Linked DNA regions of Homo sapiens. The protein of the gene in region 1 interacts with the protein of each later gene in a biochemical or structural test. Each region holds a gene or a part of one and is shown in the gene's direction. Other genes may lie near its edges.

The links.
Region 2: the proteins of ZAP70 (region 1) and DBNL form a complex in vitro, tested with the Homo sapiens proteins (one study listed by BioGRID).
Region 3: the proteins of ZAP70 (region 1) and PELI1 form a complex in vitro, tested with the Homo sapiens proteins (one study listed by BioGRID).

What each region holds. Positions count from the first base shown.
Region 1 is NC_000002.12:97,716,545-97,723,651, forward strand, and holds part of ZAP70 (tyrosine-protein kinase ZAP-70), read left to right. Parts: intron 1-7,107. UniProt on the Homo sapiens protein: Tyrosine kinase that plays an essential role in regulation of the adaptive immune response. Regulates motility, adhesion and cytokine expression of mature T-cells, as well as thymocyte development.
Region 2 is NC_000007.14:44,054,652-44,061,758, forward strand, and holds part of DBNL (drebrin-like protein), read left to right. Parts: intron 1-2,105; coding exon 2,106-2,252; intron 2,253-3,130; coding exon 3,131-3,208; intron 3,209-3,477; coding exon 3,478-3,629; intron 3,630-3,777; coding exon of another isoform or gene 3,778-3,780; coding exon 3,781-3,829; intron 3,830-4,226; coding exon of another isoform or gene 4,227-4,250; coding exon 4,251-4,332; intron 4,333-4,702; coding exon 4,703-4,798; intron 4,799-4,891; coding exon 4,892-5,007; intron 5,008-5,396; coding exon 5,397-5,502; intron 5,503-6,125; coding exon 6,126-6,265; 3' UTR 6,266-7,107. UniProt on the Homo sapiens protein: Adapter protein that binds F-actin and DNM1, and thereby plays a role in receptor-mediated endocytosis.
Region 3 is NC_000002.12:64,092,368-64,099,474, reverse strand, and holds the end of PELI1 (E3 ubiquitin-protein ligase pellino homolog 1), read left to right. Parts: intron 1-2,197; exon of another isoform or gene 2,198-2,413; intron 2,414-2,864; coding exon 2,865-3,062; intron 3,063-3,161; coding exon 3,162-3,350; intron 3,351-4,206; coding exon 4,207-4,773; 3' UTR 4,774-6,823; downstream 6,824-7,107. UniProt on the Homo sapiens protein: E3 ubiquitin ligase catalyzing the covalent attachment of ubiquitin moieties onto substrate proteins. Involved in the TLR and IL-1 signaling pathways via interaction with the complex containing IRAK kinases and TRAF6.

The sequences.
Region 1 (7,107 bases):
GAGGAGGTGACTTAGGCAGAGACCTGAATAAAGTGGAAGGTGTTGGAGGAAGAGTCTCCAGGCAGAGGGAACAGACAGTACAAAGGCCCTGAGGCTGCACCATGCCTGGTTTGTCCGAGGGACCTGAACGAATAACATGAGGAGGCCCGTGTGGCTGGAGGGGAGTGAGTGGCGGGGGGTGGTGATGGGCATCATGAAGGGCCTTGGGGGCCACCCTGAGGACTTGCATTTTCACCCCGAGTGAGGTGGGAGCCTAGAGGGCTTCAAGCAGAGAAGAGGATGTGATGGCATGACGGGGGCCAGCAAGTCTCACCCCAGGGAGTCCCTGCAGCCCCAGTGCTGGACACCTTCACTGGCCCTGCTTTCCGGAGGAGGTCTGGCGAGCTTCACTCGCTGCTGAGGCTGCACTGTGACCATGTGGTGGGTCCACGATTCCATGATTTGAATCCAATCCCTGCAGTCAGGAAAGACATATGAAGGAGGAGCCTGCAGCCATGGCTAACTGCGGCTGTGTGGCTCATGGCGTCACCAAGCTGGCGTGTGCTGACGACCAGTGCCTATGCTGCCTCTGTTGGTGGGCACAGGCGGCCCGAGCACAGCTGGGGGATTAAGGAGCAGGGAACATGGCTTCAGAGGGACTTAGGGTCTCAGGTGAGGACTAGGGGTTCAGAGAGAGAGAGCCAGGAGCTGGAGTGGGAACAGGGTGGTGGGGGGGCAGTAGGAGGAGGTGGGGCGGTGAGGGGCTGGGGCCCTGCTCCTGCAGAGCCTTGGATGGGGACATGTCAAGCCTCTGGCTGGGGGGACATGCGGAGCCTCTGGCTGGGGAGACATGCGGAGCCTCTGGCTGGGGGGACATGCGGAGCCTCTGAGCCTCTGGCTGGGGTGACATGTGGAGCCTCTGGCTGGGGGGACACGAGGAGCCTCTGAGCCTCTGGCTGGGGGGACACGTGGAGCCTCTGGCTGGGGGGACATGTGGAGCTTGTGCTGCTCCTGCCCGCTCCCACCAGGTCCAGTGGCTTTGGTGTGATACCTCTGCTCTGACGATGGGCATGTAATGGGGGCTTCTGATGCCCAGGGAATGTTCTGTGAAACAGTAGACCTTCAAGGCTTTGCTGAATAGGTGTGGGAATTAAGTGACGCTGAAAGAGGTCCTTCCATGTGGTCTTCTCGGAGCCTTTAATGTGCTTTTCACAGCATTTGAAACTGTATTTGACCCCTTGACTCTTTTTTCCTTTGAAGCATGTTTGGGGAATCTGATCTCTCTGGAACAGCTGTAATCTAGCACTGCCTTTACCCAGGGAGGCTGGGTGAATGGTGGGATTCCAGGCAGGTCCTTCTGACCAGGCTCCAAGGCTTCCTCCCATCATCCTCCCAGGGCCTGGGCTGTGAGTGTGGGGCAGGTGCCCCGTGGCTGCTCTGCTGTGATCTCTGTGCTGTGATCCAGGGGCTGTAAGTTCTGGGAAGGCCAAACTAGGATCTCTGAACTGTGAGCTCAAGAGGAAGCTGACTGGGGTCAGCCTAGGGAGAACCATAGGCCAGGCTTGGGGAATGAACAGGCTCACTGGGGACTGAGGGACGCGGCTCCTAACCCAAGTCCTGTCCGTCGGGATGGCCCAGGCAGGTCGAGGGCTGGGGTGGGTCTCATGGTGGGTGTGTCTTCTGGGAGGGCCACGAGTCTGCAGGGACACAGCTGAGAACAGAAACATTTGATCCCCTGCCTGGGGTCTGGGGTCACCCCGGGGAGCTCTAGATCGGTGCAGCTCACTGACAGCAGACACTCCGGCTAGCCGCTGCGTGGCAAATGCTCCCACCTCTTGCCCCCGGACTTTTCATCTCTGCCACCTCTGCCCACCTTCTCTGGCCTCCCCAGCATCTCTGGCCATGGGGTCCCTGGGAACTTGGGCCCCATGTTTTACTAGTGAGGACAGTCCAGAAAGGCCCCAGGGGTGGAAGAGGAGGCGCCCACCACCCGACCTGTGTGTGTGGGGTGGTGCTTGTGATTACCGTTGTCCTTGTGGGCAGTGGGACAGGGAAGCTGGGACGCAGCCGAGATGCACAGGAAGAGAGCCTGCCTCTGGGACTCCTTAGCCTCGGGTCATGGATGGCAGCCCTGGGCTGGGCACTGAGCCTCCCTCATCTCCTCTTCTGCCCTAACCCACTTCTAGCTACCCAGGCTGCACCTGCGGCCACGTGGGGAGGAGCTTCTCAAACTGTGTTGGCGACAGTTTCCTGCCACAGCTTCCTGCCCCAGAGACCAGCTTTGCTACTCTGCACCCATGGTCCTTGGACAAGCCCTCAGTTTTCTGCCTCATCCTGCATCCTCATGCTTTATGGGAGTGGCTCCATGAGTCTTCAAGGATGGGCTGGCTGGGTTGGAGAAGATGGAGGGGAGAGGGAAGGGTGCACTAGGTGGAGGGTGCTGTGTGGATGAAAGTATGAACATCCATTTGAAGGAAGGCAAGTAGCACAGCTCAGCTGGGGCAGAGGGCTGGGGAGATCCAATGCAGTAGCCATTAGGGTCTTGAGCAAGGGAGGCCTTGGGGAAGAATTGCCAAGGAGCAACTTGCAGACTCTGGGGCTCAGCTCTGTGGAAATAGACTGTGAGGTTCAGCCAGCCACAGGCAGCATGAGCATGCCATCTGGATCTTAGGTTGGTTGTATTAATGGAAACAGTTGGTGGAGATCAAAGGAGATGATGCCAGCACCAACCGACCTCAGTCGGGCGAGAGATCTGGGCTCTGGGAGAGGTGGGTGTGGCAGCATGTACAGCTACTGACAGGATGACCCAAGTAAGGGGACGGGGGTGGGGGAAGGAGAGTGAGCAGGATGGTCAGAGGGCAGAGGCAAGCCAGGGAGTTTGTGAAGGACCAGAGAGGTCTGTGGGGCTCAAGCAGGAGGGAGGAGTCATAGGTGTCGGCCATTCAGGGGGCCCAGGATTGAGGAGGTCACAGAGTGCTTGTCTGGTGCCTACAGACTGCCAGGGGTGCTATCAGTGCTGGAGAACAGCCTGGGGGGGGGGCGCAGACCAGGTCTGGCTGAGAGGCTGGGAGTCAAGGACATAGGGACAGGAGTGTAGACAGCCCTTAATCACTTTTCCTATTTTCATTAGCATTTTTAGTGTCCATTGTGTCTGTATCTTCCAGTTCCTTTCCCCCTTAATTAAAAATTTGGGGTATAATTTACATGCAATAAAATTTTTATATCATTTTAGTGAAAAATTCTGAGATTTGACAAATGCATACAGCCCAGAGACTACCACCACATCAATCAAGATACAGACTATTCCCCCAAATTCCGTCCTGCCCTCTGTCGTCACTCCTTCTCCGGCCCCCAGCACCCAGCAACCTCTGGTGCGTTTTCCGTCCCTATAGTTGTGTGTGGAATCACACAATTCGTAGCCCTTGGAACCTGGTTTCTTTCATCCAGCCTGAGGCCTTTGCGATGCGTTTGCGGAACTGCGTGTCTCCGTATGCTGTTCCACTTACCGCGGAGTAGAATTCCACTGTAGGCATGTCCCACAGTGTATCTTATTCATCTGTTGGGAAACATGTAAGTTATTCCTAATTTTTGGCAACTGTGGCTAGTACGGCTATAAATGTTCCTGTGTAGGTTTTTGTGTGAATGTAAATTTCCATTTCTTTAGAGTGAATACCTAGGAGCCTTCATGGGTTTTTTTGTTTTGTTTTGTTTTGTTTTGTTTTGAGATGGAGTTTTGCTCTGTTGCCCAGGCTGGAGTGAAGTGGTGCGATCTCGGCTCACTGCAACTTCCACCTCCTGGGTTCAAGCGATTCTCCTGCCTCAGCCTCCTGAGGAGCTGGGACTACAGGCGCCCACCACCACGCCCGACTAATTTTTTTGTATTTTTAATAGAGACGGGGTTTCACCATGTTCGCCAGGCTAGTCTCAAACTCCTGACTTTAGGTGATCCGCCTGCCTCGGCCTCCCAAAGTGTGGGCCACCGGGCCCAGCCATTAATTTTTGTATCTTAATGGAGACGGGGTTTCACCATGTTGGCCAGGCTGGTCTCAGACTGCTGGCCCCATGTGATCCACCCGCCTTGATCTCCCAAAGTGCTGGGATTACAAGCGTGAGCCACTTCGCCCAGCCGCTTCATGACTTTTTAAAAACACTCTTGTGGAATGGTGACCTTTTTCTCCAGGTGGAGCCACAAATGCAGTCCCTTATGAATCTCTGGAACACCCACCTGTCTGTAACTGTTGGGACATCCAGGACCCCCCTCAAGCTTGGCCCTCCCAACCTCACTGTCACAATCAATCGGGTTACAGTGCAGATCCTGGCCCCTCCTCTAGCTACTCTGACCCAGACTTCACCTGATTCCCATTCCAGTACCTTCCTTTCAGCTCCAGAGCCCATCTCTGGACACCCAGGGCAGAGGGAGCTTTCACAAAAGCATTCATTTTACCCCTTGGTTGCATTTGCATAACTAAGAAGGGCACTCAAAGTCAATTCTCCAATGCAAACTTATGCCTGAGTAGCCTTGCTGGGCCTATGTTAGTAGAGAAACAACTCAGAACCGCTATGGAGAGGTATTTTTTCCCAACATTCTATGAAAACTTACAAATATGCAGAAAATAGAAAGAATTAACTGTACACCAATAACTCACCTGCTAGATTCTCCAGTTTATGATTTGCTATAATTGCTTTATCACATACAGTTGATCAACACTGCGGAGTTCTTATTTGTGAGTTTGCCTACTTGTTAAATTTATCTGAAACCCTAAAACCAACATGGCACTTTTGTGGTCATTCTCAGACATACAGAGTGGCAAAAATATGAATCACTCGATACACATTTTCCCACCGAGGCTGCACAAGGCAAACACTCTCATGCTGCAGATAAGTGTCTTTTTCATGTTCTTTTTTTTTGAGACAGAGTCTCACTCTGTCGCCCAGGCTGGAGTGCAATGGCGTGACCTCAGCTCACTGCAAGCTCTGCCTCCTGGGTTCATGTCATTCTTCTGCCTTGGCCTCCCGAGTAGCTGGGACTACAGGCGCCCGCCACCATGGCTGGCTGATTTTTTTTTTTTTTTTTTTTTTTTTGTATTTTTAGTAGAGACAGGGTTTCACTGTGTTAGCCAGGATGGTCTTGGTCTCCTGACCTTGTGATCCACCCGCCTCGGCCTCCCATAATGCTGGATTAGAGGCGTGAGCCACCGCAGCCGGCCAATCTTTTTCATGTTCTATTTGGTGGTGCCACATATTTTGTTTTTTTATTTTATCTTTTTTTTTTTTGAGATTGCTGTCTCGCACTGTCGCCCCAGCTGGAGTGCAGTGGCAGTGGCGCGATCTCAGCTCACTGCAACCTCCGCCTCCCAGGTTCAAGCAATTCTGCTTCAGCCTCCCGAGTAGCTGGAATTACAGGCACCTGCCACCATGCCCGGCTAATTTTTTGTATTTTTAGTAGAGACGGGGTTTCACTGTGTTGGCCAAGATGGTCTCGAATGCCTGACCTTGTGATCCACCTGCCTTGGCCTCCCAAAGTGCTGGGATTACAGGCGTGAGCCACCACGCTCGGCCTATTTTATCTTTTTAAAGACAGAGTTTCGCGCTTGTTGCCCAGGCTGGAGTGCAGTGGCCTGATCTCGGCTCAATGGAATCTCCGCCTCTTGGGTTCACGAGGTTCTCCTGCCTCAGCCTCCCAAGTAGCTGGGATTACAGGTGCCCGCCACCACCTCTGGCTAATTTTTTGTATTTATGGTGGAGACGGGGTTTCACCATGTTAGCCAGGCTGGTCTCGAACTGCTGGTCTCAAGTGATCCACCCGCCTTGGCCTCCCAAAGTGCTGGATGACAGGCATGAGCCGTTGCACTCGGCCTCACATATTTTGAATGTTTGTGCTTTTTGTTGGTGATTTCAGTGGTTGACATGGCCCCCAACCATAGTGCTGAAATGCTATCTAGCATTCCTAAGGGCAAGAATGCTGTATGTGCCTTATGGAGAAAACATGTCAGATAAGCTTATAGTTATAGTGCTGTTGGCTAAGAGTTCAATGTTAGTGAATCAACCATGTCTATTAAATAAGGTGCCTTTAAACAGAAACTCACAAAAAAACAAGGTTATGTCTTGATCAGTTGATGAAAATGTAAACAGTTTCCTAGGAACCTAACTCTGTATTTCCCCTAGGAGGGATAGTTCTATATTGCTAATTCAGTGTTTTCGTTGACTTTATAGAACTGCAGAGAATGACAGAAATCAACTGTGTCTATCTGGCTGTCTATCCTTTTATCCATCCCTCTCGCTCTGTTCGTCCATCGGTCAGTGTTATTTTTGGGATGCTCTCAAATTAGATTACAGTCCTCAGTTCCCATCACTCCTAAACATTTCTGCAAGCAGATCGTTACCTAGGGTTCAATATTTTATGTTTCTTTTTTAATTGAGGGAGGGCAAATACAATGGAATGAACACATCTTAAGTGTACATTCTCTTAGTTTTCGGAAAATCAGACACTTGCATAACCCAAGCCCTGTGAATATACAGGACGTCACCATCACCCCAGAAAGTTGAGGGCAGGCAATTTTAAGTTATCTGCCTTACCAGATATCCATCTGTCTAAATAGCCTTAATTCCTCCTCCCCTCAATCACACGTTTTGTTTAATAGCTGTATCAGAGTTCACTTTGAGATTAAACCCTAATGCATTTAACCAGTCCCCTAGGGATGGATATTCCAATTAGCGTATGCTCTGTAGAAACTTGCCAAGGAAGGCAGAGGGCAGGGCGAGGGGTGCCTGCTAAGGCCGAGGGGAAAGGGTCAGCGGAAGGGACAAGGGAGGCTGAGGGGTAGGGCCCTTGGGTGAGCAAAGCTGGGTGCGGCCTCAGGGCCTCTGCGCATGCAGTCCTCTCTGCCTGATGCGCTGTCCCGCGCGCTTTTTGAAAAGTTGGCTCCTCCTCCTTCAGCTCTCCCTTCAAATGCTAGCTCCTTGGAGAAGGTGACCATCCTAGCTAGAGCCACCTCTTCTCTCTCTTAATGTCACTCCACTTATTTCCTTTGTAATGCTGACCTCAATCTGTAATTATTATTTTTGTTTCTTTCTCAGTTTATCTCACGGCTCTCCCTCCTTAGAGTGTTGCCTTCGGGAGGACGGGGT
Region 2 (7,107 bases), on another chromosome or scaffold:
TCTCTTCTAGCTAATTTGAAATACACAAAATTATTGTTAACTATAATTTCCCTTCTGTACTATTGAATACTAGAATTTATTCCTTCTATTTAACTGTACTTTTGTACCTGTTAAGCAACTTCTCTTCATTTTCTCTCCCCCATGCCCTTCCCAACCCCTGGTAACCAGCATTCTACTCTCTCCCTCCATGATACCCACTTTTTTAGCTCCCACATGAGTGAGAACATGCAATACTTGTCTTCTGTGCCTGGCTTATTTCCCTTAACATCATGACCTCCAGTTCCATCCATGTTGCTGCAAATGACAGGATGCCATTCTGTTTTATGGCTGAATAATATTCCCTCATGTTTATATACTAAATTTTCTTTACCCTTTCATCCATTGATGGACGTTTTGGTTGATTCCGTATCTTGGCTATTGTTAATAGCGCTGAACTTCAGAGTTGGATATATCCCCAGCAGCTGGATTGCTAGATCATATGGTAGTTCTGCTTTTAGTAGGACTAAAATACTGTTTTAAAAACCATACTGTTGTCTAGGCGCGATGGCTCACGCCTGTAATCCCAGCAGTTTGGGAGGCCAAGGTGAACAGATTACCTGAGGTCAGGAGTTCAAGACCAGCCTGGCCAACATGGTGAAACCCCGTCTCTACTAAAAAAATACAACAATTAGCCAGGTGTGGTGGCGGGCACCTGTAATCCCAGCTACTCAGGAAGCTGAGGCAGAGAATCTCTTGAACCTGGGAGGTGGAGGTTGCAGTGAGCCGAGATTGTCCACTGCACTCCAGCCTGGGCAACAGAGTAAGACTCTGTCTCAGAAAAAAACCCAAAAAACCATACTGTTTTTATAATGGCTGTACTACTTTACATTCCTACCAACAGTGTATAAGAATTTCCCTTTCTCCACATCCTTGCTAGCATTTATTTTTTATGTTTTTTATAATAGCCATTCTAACTGTGGTGAGATGATAGCCCGTTATGGTTTTGGTTTGCATTTCCCTGATGATGGTTAGTGATGTTGAGCATTTTTTTGTATGTAGTTAGCCATGCGTATATCATCTTTCGAGAAATATCTGTTAAGGTCTTTTGCCCATTTTAAAATCAGATTATTATTTTTTTGCTACTGAGTTGTTTGAGTTCCTTATATATTCTGGTCACTAATTCCTTGTCAGATGGATAGTTTGAAGATATTTTCTCCCATTCTGTAGGTTGTCTGTTTACTTTGTTGATTGTTTCATTTGCTGTGCAGAAGCCTTTTAGCTTGATGTAGTCCAATTGGTTGATTTTTGCTTTTGTTGCCTGGGCTTTTGAGGTCTTAACCCAAAAAAAATCTTTGCCCAGATCAATGTCCAGGGGCATCTACCCAGTGTTTTCTTTGAGTAGTTTCATAGTTTCAGGTCTTACATTTAAGTCTTTTTAACCCATTTTGAGTTTTTTTTTAATATGGTAAAAGATGAAGATTTAGTTTCATTCTTCTGCATATGGATATCCAATTTTCCTAGCCCTGTTTATGAAGGAGACCGTCCTTTCCCCAGTGTATGTTCCTGTCACCTTTGTTAAAAATGAGTTGGCTGTGTGTGTGAGTGCTCTGTTAGTTTCCATTGTTGTGTCTGTGTTTATGCCTGTACCATGCTGTTTTGCTTACTGTAGTTTTGTAGTTTAATTTGAAATCAGGTAGCATGAAGCCTCCAGCTTTGTACTTTTTGCTTCAGATTGCTTTAGCTATTCAGGGTCTTTTGTGGCTTCCAGATGGCATTTAAAATTAGTTTTCATTGATTAGAAGGAAGGCCTTTGATGCAAATTATGCCTGGGCTGTCTATTGATACACAGCAGGGAACAGCTACAGAAGGAACCACTGGATAGCACAGTGGAGGTCAAGGGTCTCACGTGAACTGGGACAAGAATGAGGGGTTTGCTCCAAGTTGGTTTGTTTGAGCCCTTGAGGGGAACTCGTGCCTCAGTTTTCAGCAGCCAGACAGGTGCCTTCTAGTTTCCTGATTCCAGTCCTGTGTGGTATAGTAGTGGCCCGTGCTGTATGGACTGACAGGAGTTTGGCCCATCTCCTGGGCTTGCAAAGCCCTTCTTTCAAGTGCTGCTCCTGCTGCAGGGGGCCCATGTGACCATCAACGCACGGGCCGAGGAGGATGTGGAGCCTGAGTGCATCATGGAGAAGGTGGCCAAGGCTTCAGGTGCCAACTACAGCTTTCACAAGGAGAGTGGCCGCTTCCAGGACGTGGGACCCCAGGCCCCAGTGGTGAGTGCTGCTTGCCCATCGCCAGCCCTTTTGTTGCTCAGGGCCTGAGGCAGGGGGCCAGGAATATGCACTTCCCAGCACCCGGGCTGGCTGGGCCCATGCCTGCTTAGTTTCTGCAGATGGTAACCCCTGAGCTGTGGTGATTGCCCACTGACCAGATGAGCAGGAATAGCCCTCTGACCTTGCCTAGGGGTTGGACTAGCTGTTCTGGAGCCTTCCTCTGGAGCCCAGCCTGTGTGGTCAGAGTGGAGGCTCTGCAGCATGCATGGCTATGATAGTCTGGCTGCCCTCAAGGTCATGGCACTGGAACATCTTGGGCTGCCCCTGGAGGTAGCCACCGTGGAGGAACTAAAGGAGGCATCAAGGCGGAGCCTGAAACCAGAGCAGGCCCCTTGGAGTCACGGGAGATACCTGTGGGCCTGTGGCCCCAGTGCTGTGTGGAGCTGATGGCTGGGAGCTGCGTCCGCATGCGTGTGGTTGGACGTGATTCCTTGGATGCTCTTGTGGTAGTCAGCTGTCTGAGTGCCCCTGGTCAGAGGCCTGCCTCAGAACTGCCCAATGTCTAGGAGTCTGCAGGTGGGGTATGGGGGCCTTTCTTGCCCTGGCCCCCATCCATGAGGGCGAGAGACCACCAGAGACCCCTCTAGTGTTGTCTGGGATTGAGCATCCCCCTTGGGGCAGTGTCCTGGGCTTCTTTCAGGTCATCTTGGTGTGTGTCTCCTTGAGGGTCACTGGGCAGTGCTCTGCTGCCTCTGCTGGGTCCAGTCCTAGCAGCACTCACCTGTGCTGTCGCAAGTTTAGCGTATTCTCTCCTTTGGTGCCTGTGGGCCTGGCCTTCCACCTGGGTCCAGGTCTCTAATGAGTGCTGTCCCCTACAGGGCTCTGTGTACCAGAAGACCAATGCCGTGTCTGAGATTAAAAGGGTTGGTAAAGACAGCTTCTGGGCCAAAGCAGAGGTGAGTGCTGCCCCGGGGCATGCTGGGCACGTGGGAGTGTTCTGCTTGCTGTGGCTCATCTTTCCTCACAAGTGAGCTCATGCAGCATCCACTCTCCTTGGTGCCCATTACAGATGGTCACACTGAGGCTCGGGTAAGTTAAGCCACAAGGCTAATGATCGACTGGCTCTGGTGCCCGTCTTTGGCCATGTGCCTAAAACTCAGTCCTGGGCAGGGGATTAGGCTGAAGTGGCAGCATAGGGCTGAGCGGGCAGTGGCTCTCCCTGCAGAAGGAGGAGGAGAACCGTCGGCTGGAGGAAAAGCGGCGGGCCGAGGAGGCACAGCGGCAGCTGGAGCAGGAGCGCCGGGAGCGTGAGCTGCGTGAGGCTGCACGCCGGGAGCAGCGCTATCAGGAGCAGGGTGGCGAGGCCAGCCCCCAGAGGTGAGCCAGAGGTGGAGGCTGGCCTGGGGGACCCACCCTGAGGCATTGCTGGGCACCTGCTCCATCCCATGGAGGCGAGGAGGACTAAGGGGTGTGGCATGAGAAGCTGTGACTGTGCCTCAGCTGTGCCCCACCCGGCCCTTCCCAGCAGGACGTGGGAGCAGCAGCAAGAAGTGGTTTCAAGGAACCGAAATGAGCAGGTAAGATGGGGGTGCTCTACTTGTTTGGACCTGTCCTGGCCACACGCAGAAGTCCCTGATCTCGGATTGAGGGCCCAGCCCAGACCTGGGCAGAGGCTGCCCTGCAGTCAGCTGGGGCAGGTTGGAATCTGGGCACCTCAAGAGGTGGCAGTAGAGAGGAAAGCCAAAGGCGGAAGCGTCGGGCTTGGACCACACCTGGTCCTGGGGGAGGCCCTGGGAGCCCCTTGGCTTCTGTGTTTTACTTCCTTTTTTAACGTTACTTTTTATTTTTAAATGACTTCTCTCCTGAGAACATGTTTTGCCTCCTGGCCCCACACTCACCTTTGAGGGGCTACTGGGCCGACAGCTGGAGGGGCTGTGATCTGGGGAGAGGTGGTGAAGGTTTTGCCCACTGCAGGGGTCAACATGTGCTTCCCTCCAGGAGTCTGCCGTGCACCCGAGGGAGATTTTCAAGCAGAAGGAGAGGGCCATGTCCACCACCTCCATCTCCAGTCCTCAGCCTGGTGAGCTCTCCCTTTGGGCCTGGCCATGAGGCAGCAGCAGGCTGAGGGGGAGCCTGGGGTCCTATGTGGGCTCCCCCAAGGCTAGTGACAGATATATCGGTGACGGGTGAGTGAGTGAGGAGAAGGGACACCTGGGGCCATTGACCTCATCAGTGACCACACTGGTCACCAGTTTGGCCTCCAAAAGATATTGGGCTGCGCTGTCTACCACGTCACCACATAGCACATGGCCCTGGGGCCTCTGTTCCTGCACTAGCAAGAGCAAGCCCCATGAGACTGCCTCGAGCACACCAGGGTGGAGGGTGCTGTGGGGTGCGTGGGTGTGTGGTGGTGTTTCTGAAGTGATGTATATATTTACCCGGGTTTGCAGGCAAGCTGAGGAGCCCCTTCCTGCAGAAGCAGCTCACCCAACCAGAGACCCACTTTGGCAGAGAGCCAGCTGCTGCCATCTCAAGGCCCAGGGCAGGCAAGGCGCTTGTCACCCCATGGGGACCCTGGGGGACAGCAGTGGAGAAGGGGGATGTGTGGGAGTGAGAACCTGCTGTGTTCCCTGGTGCAGATCTCCCTGCTGAGGAGCCGGCGCCCAGCACTCCTCCATGTCTGGTGCAGGCAGAAGAGGAGGCTGTGTATGAGGAACCTCCAGAGCAGGAGACCTTCTACGAGCAGCCCCCACTGGTGGGTTCCTACACTGGGGCTGGGGCCAGGAAGGGGCTGCATACTCAGGAACACTTATCACGGGCCGCCTGAGTTTTCTGGGGGCATGCAACAGGTTTTAAAGCACATGCATTTTTGGAGCAGCCCTGTGTTATAAATTGTCAGGGCACGCCCCACTCTATAGGAGGTGCTGGGTGGGAAGAGGACCTTGCAGCCTATGGCTGAGGGATTTATGCACTGTCCTGTGGCTTCTGTACTCTGGTAGGGCGGGGACAGCAGCAGCCCAGCCCCCGAGCCTGTAGACTGCTTGCCCTCTGCGTACTCCCAGCTTGACCTGAGCCATGTGGGGCAGAGCAGCGATTGTGTGTAAGGGCTGAGTCTGGGGTAACACCTTTGTCATCCCTGGGCAGGTGCAGCAGCAAGGTGCTGGCTCTGAGCACATTGACCACCACATTCAGGGCCAGGGGCTCAGTGGGCAAGGGCTCTGTGCCCGTGCCCTGTACGACTACCAGGCAGGTAAGGTGCCCTGGCCTGGCTGGCACAGACCACAGGGTCCTGAGGTTAGGAGACAAGAGGGTCTGGGGTTTTATGGGAAGATGGCACCAGGGGGTATCAGGAAGAGAAGACAGGAGGGTGGGCGGTGCGTTTAGGGGTAGAAGCACCTCTGGAGTGGGGGTGACTGTGGCACTAGAGTGTTCTGCACAGCCCAGGCCTCCCTACATGTTCCTCATTAGCTATTTGCTGGCCGCTGATGTGAATCCCAGTTGCCACCCTTGTCACAGAACATGGACTCTGAGCAGGGAGGTGGGCCAGGCCTGGATGCTGGTTCACCAGGCGTCCCTGGGTGGAGGCCTTGGAGAATGGGGTGGAGGCCCCCTACGGAGCAGGCTGGTGTCTACTCTAGCCTTTTTTGGGAATGCTCTGTAGGAGGGTATGCCCTGGGGGTGTGGTCACTGGAGCCGCATTGGGACAGGGTGCAGTGTTGGCCAAGGCTTAGCAGGGTGGCAGGGATATTTCTGAGGAGGAACCAGAGCTGCAGCGAGGTGTGCTGCAGCAGTGTGGGGCTGCCGTGGGCTGCCCGAGCAGGTGGGATGTGGGAGGGAGCCCCTGATATGCATCTGGGCTCATCCTCTTTGCAGCCGACGACACAGAGATCTCCTTTGACCCCGAGAACCTCATCACGGGCATCGAGGTGATCGACGAAGGCTGGTGGCGTGGCTATGGGCCGGATGGCCATTTTGGCATGTTCCCTGCCAACTACGTGGAGCTCATTGAGTGAGGCTGAGGGCACATCTTGCCCTTCCCCTCTCAGACATGGCTTCCTTATTGCTGGAAGAGGAGGCCTGGGAGTTGACATTCAGCACTCTTCCAGGAATAGGACCCCCAGTGAGGATGAGGCCTCAGGGCTCCCTCCGGCTTGGCAGACTCAGCCTGTCACCCCAAATGCAGCAATGGCCTGGTGATTCCCACACATCCTTCCTGCATCCCCCGACCCTCCCAGACAGCTTGGCTCTTGCCCCTGACAGGATACTGAGCCAAGCCCTGCCTGTGGCCAAGCCCTGAGTGGCCACTGCCAAGCTGCGGGGAAGGGTCCTGAGCAGGGGCATCTGGGAGGCTCTGGCTGCCTTCTGCATTTATTTGCCTTTTTTCTTTTTCTCTTGCTTCTAAGGGGTGGTGGCCACCACTGTTTAGAATGACCCTTGGGAACAGTGAACGTAGAGAATTGTTTTTAGCAGAGTTTGTGACCAAAGTCAGAGTGGATCATGGTGGTTTGGCAGCAGGGAATTTGTCTTGTTGGAGCCTGCTCTGTGCTCCCCACTCCATTTCTCTGTCCCTCTGCCTGGGCTATGGGAAGTGGGGATGCAGATGGCCAAGCTCCCACCCTGGGTATTCAAAAACGGCAGACACAACATGTTCCTCCACGCGGCTCACTCGATGCCTGCAGGCCCCAGTGTGTGCCTCAACTGATTCTGACTTCAGGAAAAGTAACACAGAGTGGCCTTGGCCTGTTGTCTTCCCCTATTTTCTGTCCCAGCTCATCCGTGTCTCTGAAGAACAAATATGCTTTTGGACCACGAATTCCCAGTTTGGTCTACACAGGCTCGCAGCTCTCACCTGTCC
Region 3 (7,107 bases), about 34 Mb from region 1:
TCCTCACTTTTACCAAAAATAAATAAGATCTTTAAGGAAGATTAATGTTTAGATCCAAGAAAAACCGAACACAAAGCTTTAGGATGATTTTTCACATTTTGTTTCACTGACAAGCAGTGAAAATGAATGAGCTTAGCTTTTTTTTAAAATCAAGATGCTACTAGGCCTGTAGTCTCAGTTACTCAGGGGGCTGAGGTGGGAGGATAGCTTGAGGCCAGCCTGGGCAACATAGTGAGACTTCGTCTCTTTAATAAAATATAGATAAATATATATGTGTGTGTGTGTGTGTGTGTGTGTGTGTGTGTGTGTATCTCCAAGATATTTGGTCACAGGCTAGAATTTTAGCTTCAGAAAGTACGTTATATTTATTTGTTTACCGCTTATCTTTTGTAGATGAGGTTAACTGAAATCTTGTGAGTTAAAGATGATAGAGTTACTTGGGGGCAAAACTGAAATTAAACCAGGCATCCTGAATTCTGAAACAATGTCTTCACCATCTAATGAAGGCCCTTGAATAAGTTTTAACAGTTTGGGTTTTGTCTTTTTCATAAAGTAGAGAATTTTCCCCAGTATCATAAACTGATTATGCCCTTTCTACAGGTATTATACCTTTGGAAAATCCAAACATTTCTGCATCAAAAAGACTGTGATGTATCAGAAACTACCTTGATAAACTAGCCAGTCTTTGAGGAATTGTACTGGAAACATTCTAGGATTGTCTACCCTGTAAACTGAACAAGAACATTTATTGTTCAAGTCATCAGATATTCCAACTCCAACTCTATGCCTTGTTTGTCACTATGAAGTACATAAGGGAGACATTACAAGCTGATTACATGCCTAGGTGCTGTACTGACCCTGTAAATCTTAAGCACATTGATTGTGTTGAAGAAGGATGGAGAAAAGACTTTACACTGGTGCCTTTTCATGTAGATCTTTTTATCAGGTTAAGTAGGATTTTTGCCAGCAACCGGTAGAAAAGCATTCTAGCAAAAGAGATGGCAAAGAAGCAAAGAAGTAGTACACAGTGTGGTGAAAGATTGACGAATAAGCTGTTGTAGCTTGTATACACAAATAGCAGGAAATTCGGCTGGATTGGTAGATGGGAGGCAAATCTTGAGTCAGTTTCTAACTATTATCAGAAATAATAAACTACAAATTTTGGATAAGCTATAAGGAACCATTGAGTTTTCTCATGAGGGTAAGGGAGAGTAACAAAAGAGCTGTATTTTTAATGCTAATAATAGCAGGGGAAGAATTATTAACAATCATATTTTGGCATCTGATCACATTCATGGTGGTTTTTTTCTCTTTATAGATACTTAAGTTTCTTCCTTCTCATTGTCATTACAAATATTGCTTCAGTGTCTTAAATATTCTCTTCCAAGACCCAGTTGAAATGTCAGCTCTCTGGAACAGTCTCTTTCCAAATAAGTGCTACTTCTGTTGATTCTGAATATTAGTTCAATCCTTGGCCTATATCTTTTAGCTTTTAAAGAGCCTTTTTATTTGGGGGAATATTTTTTGTTTCAAAGATCTGAGGCCATTTAAGGTATCTTTATTTTTAAGAATAAAGAAAAGGAATATCCAATCTTATATTTGTTAACTAGTTTCCCTCTAAAACTATCCAATCTAAATAAAAAGACTTTATACTTGACAGTTGGACAAAAACACTAAAGAGGTTTATCTGAAAGTGTGCCGATATGAGGAACTTGAGGCTAAAATATGTAAAGAATGACTTTTAAGAGTCTTTATCTTTGTAGAGGGTCAGTATTTTTTCTCAGTACCCACATTCTTCAATTTTATGGTACTACTTTATAACAAATACATTCATGAACTGATAATTTCCAAATGTTTGCTTTAAAGCCCCGTGACACTTGTCACTTTTGTCATCTCCCCATTGATTTCCTTTTTTCTTTCAACTTTCAAAATGAAATTAACTTATTTACTAGCTAGTACCTCTGAAGATATTTTTAAATCTCTGACACCTCACTCATCCAGAACTCTTATCTGGGAACCTTGTCTCTCTGAAATATCCCTAAGAACCAGGAAGAGTATATATATAAAATAAATGCCACAAAGTTGATGTAGTGAAATTCCTTTTCTATTCTCCCTAGAGGATCCCTTAGGCTCTCACCAGAACCTTTTGAAATACTTTTCTCTGAAATAGGTTATTTGATTTCTCAACCCATAACAGAGTAAGAGTAGCCAGTTAAAAGAGGGGCTTGTTGCTGGAAACAAGCATGACCAAAAACAAGGAGTGATAGCTGACAACCTGACAGAAAAGAAACAAGAAAATATATGAAGTATACATAAGACCTCAAAGCAAGGCTGTGTAAGCCCTTGACATAAGGACCAGCAGCCTTGTATACCTCTTGTAGCACCTGAAGACATCACTGCATTTCAGCTTAACGTAAGTGGTATTTATAGTGTAATGTTCTGCAGTCATCCTAAAAGATTTACTTATATATGTTCACTATATTCTGTTAAATAAGGTAGAATATCTCTTTAAATATCTCTAAAGAGAAAAAAACTACATGATACACATATTTCCATCCAAAAGGGTTAAAATTAAAATCTGCAGCCATCTAGAAATCTCAGCCGTTCCTGAATTCTTCATTCCCTAAGGGTTTCGTATATTATTGTAAGTTCTCATTTAATTCCATGCTCTAAGTGATTACTTCATCAGAGACAGTCTGACTGATTAGTTTTCAAGAGTATAGATGCCCCCAGCGTTAAGTATGGTAAACTTCAACTTTAGAAATTTCAGAGACCTAATGTTCTCTCCTTATTGTGCCCTTCTTGAATGGATTTTCCACTGTGCTCTTTGAATGGGTTTATAGGTATTTTTTTTTTTCCCTCAGATTGGCCGGTCGACTGAAAGCCCCATTGATTTTGTAGTAACTGACACGGTTCCTGGAAGTCAAAGTAATTCTGATACACAGTCAGTACAAAGCACTATATCAAGATTTGCCTGCAGAATCATATGTGAACGGAATCCTCCCTTTACAGCACGGATTTATGCTGCAGGATTTGACTCATCAAAAAACATCTTTCTTGGGGTAAAAAGCTTTTTTTCTAAATGATGCTTTCTTTTATACTAGCTTTCATTCCAAGTTACAAGTTACAAGTTGGAAGCTCACTGCTATTATTTCTACTAGGAGAAGGCTGCCAAATGGAAGACATCAGATGGACAGATGGATGGCTTGACCACTAATGGTGTTCTTGTGATGCATCCACGCAATGGGTTCACAGAAGACTCCAAGCCTGGAATATGGAGAGAAATATCGGTGTGTGGAAATGTATTTAGCCTACGTGAAACCAGATCGGCTCAGCAGAGAGGAAAAATGGTAAATACTGAATGGTATTTTCTTAATTAGCTACAATAAACACATAGGATGAGTAGAACTGAATGCATTACATACATTCCAGAAAACTCTTAAATCTATTGCCAACACAGAATACTAAGTCTATCAAACACTGACTACCAAATTCTATACTAGAGGACAGTCTCTTTAATATTTCGTTTAGTAGCCGGGCGCGGTGGCTCACACCTGTAATCCCAGCACTTTGGAAGGCCGAGGCAGATGGATCACCTGAGATCAGGAGTTCGAGACCAGCCTGAGCCACATGGAGAAACCCTGTCTCTACTAAAAATACAAAATAAGCCAGGCATGGTGGCGCATGCCTGTAATCCCAGCTACTCGGGAGGCTGAGGCAGGAGAATAGCTTGAACCTGGCAGGCAGAGGTTGCGGTGAGCCAAGATTGCGCCATTGCACTCCAGCCTGGGCAACAAGAGCATTTTAGTAAACTCTGGAAGTTCATTCTTCTGTCATATCATGTTAATATATTTTAAAACCTAAGCTTTCTTAAACTAAACAGCACTCCCTCTGATCTTTTCTGTTGCCATCTGTATATCTTAAACCATATTTACCTCATTAAAAATATTAGACTTATTGATTAGCCAGATGTTTTAATCATAAGTTGTCTTTACCATAAGGCTAAAAAGAAATATGTTAATGTTTGATATTTTATCCTTGATTTTCAAACTTAACATTTTTCATAACTACTGTCAGTTTCTTGAATATTTAGTGAAAATCCTAGGAAACCTCATTTCTTGAGTAAGGAGTACTTAAAACCAAAACACTTATGTAAAAATCCAAAACAGAGTGGTGAATATGTTTTTCAACTCTTGTCTCCTCTAGGTGGAAATTGAAACCAATCAGTTACAAGATGGCTCGTTAATTGACCTCTGTGGTGCAACATTGTTATGGCGTACTGCAGAAGGCCTTTCCCACACTCCTACCGTGAAGCATTTAGAAGCTTTAAGACAGGAAATCAATGCAGCACGACCTCAGTGCCCTGTAGGGTTCAACACACTAGCATTTCCTAGTATGAAGAGGAAAGACGTTGTAGATGAAAAACAACCATGGGTATATCTAAACTGCGGCCATGTACATGGCTATCATAACTGGGGAAACAAAGAAGAACGTGATGGAAAAGATCGTGAATGTCCTATGTGTAGGTCTGTTGGTCCCTATGTTCCTCTGTGGCTTGGATGTGAAGCTGGATTTTATGTGGACGCCGGCCCTCCAACCCATGCGTTTAGCCCGTGTGGGCATGTGTGTTCAGAAAAGACAACTGCCTATTGGTCCCAGATCCCACTTCCTCATGGTACTCATACTTTTCATGCAGCCTGTCCCTTTTGTGCACATCAGTTGGCTGGTGAACAAGGCTACATCAGACTTATTTTTCAAGGACCTCTAGACTAACAGACCATTGTCTTGCAGGACTACATTATAAATTTATAAGCTAAGTGAGTTGGGTTTTCGAACCTGTTGTCCACGTCACAGTTTTTCTGCTCTGGTCATTTGCATTAAGATGAAGAATTTTTTAAAACATTTATAATAAATAGTAGCAATTTCTGAGCAAAAATCTGGGAAACTCAAGCAAAGGAATTTCTGAAAGTATCAGTCTTCTGAATTCTGAGTTTTGAAAATATATTTTGAGGAGAAAAAGACATAGTCTAATTTGATGCCTTCCTTTTAGTGTTTTTGAATCACCTATCCTCAGTGCTGAAATTGTTTTGTATAACTGAGGGTACTGTTGGTTCAAACTATGTTAGTTTACAGTTTGTTGCAAACATTGTAAAATACAGCGACATGTATATTAACTTTTTTCTATTTATCTTTATTATAGAAAATACCTTAGAATGTTCTTGATAGAGTAGCATGGTAACGATGGTGTCACACCCTTGGTGTGAATGGTAGCTTAGTGAGCAACCTAGCTCAAGGATTTGCAAAGTTAGGAAGAAGGACGAGAGAGCCTCTCTCCCCACCCCAATCTAAATATGGAATTTGGTAAATTAGAATACTTTGTAATTTGTAAGACCAAATTCATACTAATTACCCGCGTGAAAGGTGTTTGTTTTTAACAACATTGAAGATAATCAGGAAAGATTTTTTCTTAATGTTTCTCTCGAGCGTAGTACTATAACAAAAACTTAATGCTAAGAAACATTTTATATGCTCCTTTGGATATGCAATTTAATCTAGATTATCTATTTTTCTCCCATGATAACTAATCTGTTTTTAGTATCAGCAGCATTTGGCAAGTTTATTTTTTGGATATAAACTGTGGTTCATCTGTTCACTGTTTCTAGAAAAAAATCATTGCCATAAGAAAAAGTATAAATTAGCAAGAAAGGAGAGTGACTTGATTTGCTTTTGGAAAAAGAAATGCTTAATTAATTATTCTGTATTTGGCCTTATTCGGGCATTAGGAAATCTAGAGATCTAAAGGGTTGAATGACAATAGTGCCCCCGTTTTTAGCAGACCAGCCTTAACTCTGGGTTTGAATCCTAAGGAGATTGCCACAGTGAGACTTAAGGAAATGTTTGGTTGGCAGATGAGCACCAATGACTGCAGCGTGGAGTGACGCACTGCATGGTCTGTTTATTCTCTAATTCCAATATGTCTTTTGCTTCCAGAAGCAAGAAAAGTTTCTTCTCTCCCCTCCTTCCCACCCTTTTTTCAAAGGCACCACAAGTATAGACAGTTGCACTACATCAAATCTTTTTTTGACACTTGTAGAAACCAGTACACTTTTAGATTAGACAGTATCTTCTTTTAATATTTTGATTTGTTTTCCTTTAGTTTGAAAAGTTGTATAATACTTAACTGACTGTAGCAAAGTTTTATATGTGGTAGCATACCTTTAATTTATCCTATTACAAAACTGTTCTGAATTTTCTTTTGGTTTTTAAAAAACAAAACTTGTTGCTTAGAAGCCATGAATTATTTTATTTTACTTCAACTGTCGAAACTTCCTTGTTTTAAAAAATGATCATTTGGGTTCACTCAGGAAATGCATGTCAGGAAACTTGTATTATAAGTTTATTAGTTGTGATGTATCAGTAACTGCTGTTACCCCTTTTTCAAAGAAATGTAATTGATTTTGAAGTTTTCTAGATTGTCACATGCTTTGTGACTAATGCAAGAAAGCAAGTCCTGTGTTGTATTTGTTCTAGTCATTTTTATTCAGGCTATATATTGTAGCTTAATTTTTATTTGCAATTAATTTATTTAAACTAAGTAAATACTTTTCAAAATACATAATTGAATTCGTCTCTGTGAGTTCATTTTTGCATAATCGAGAATGAGAAACCAGAAGTGAAAACTGTGAACAACTCTATTCCACACTCCAAAAATACTCATTTGAAATAGATGAAGAGTTTGCATTTAATGTAACACTTTAAAGTATCTGGTTCTTTTTTAAAAGCATCTCTTACTAATAAAGGAACTTTGTTAGTGGTTGAATAATTGAGGCCTTTTCTAAGTTAAGCCTTGCTAGGGAGTTGGCACCTGTAAGTTGCATGTTAGACTATTTAAATAGTGGCTTCGTAACCATAAAAGTTGCACGTCCTTCCCAAAGTTGCCTGCATTTTCTTCTAACAGGTAAAAACAATCTCTTCTAACAGGGAAAAACCTGGCTCATTTTCTATCAAATTCAAGTTTTAAAAATTCAGGCAATTTAAATGATCAGTTGGGTGTTTGCTGTTCAAGCAGAACTGTTATTTTGTCATGGCCTAATAGAACACTTTTAC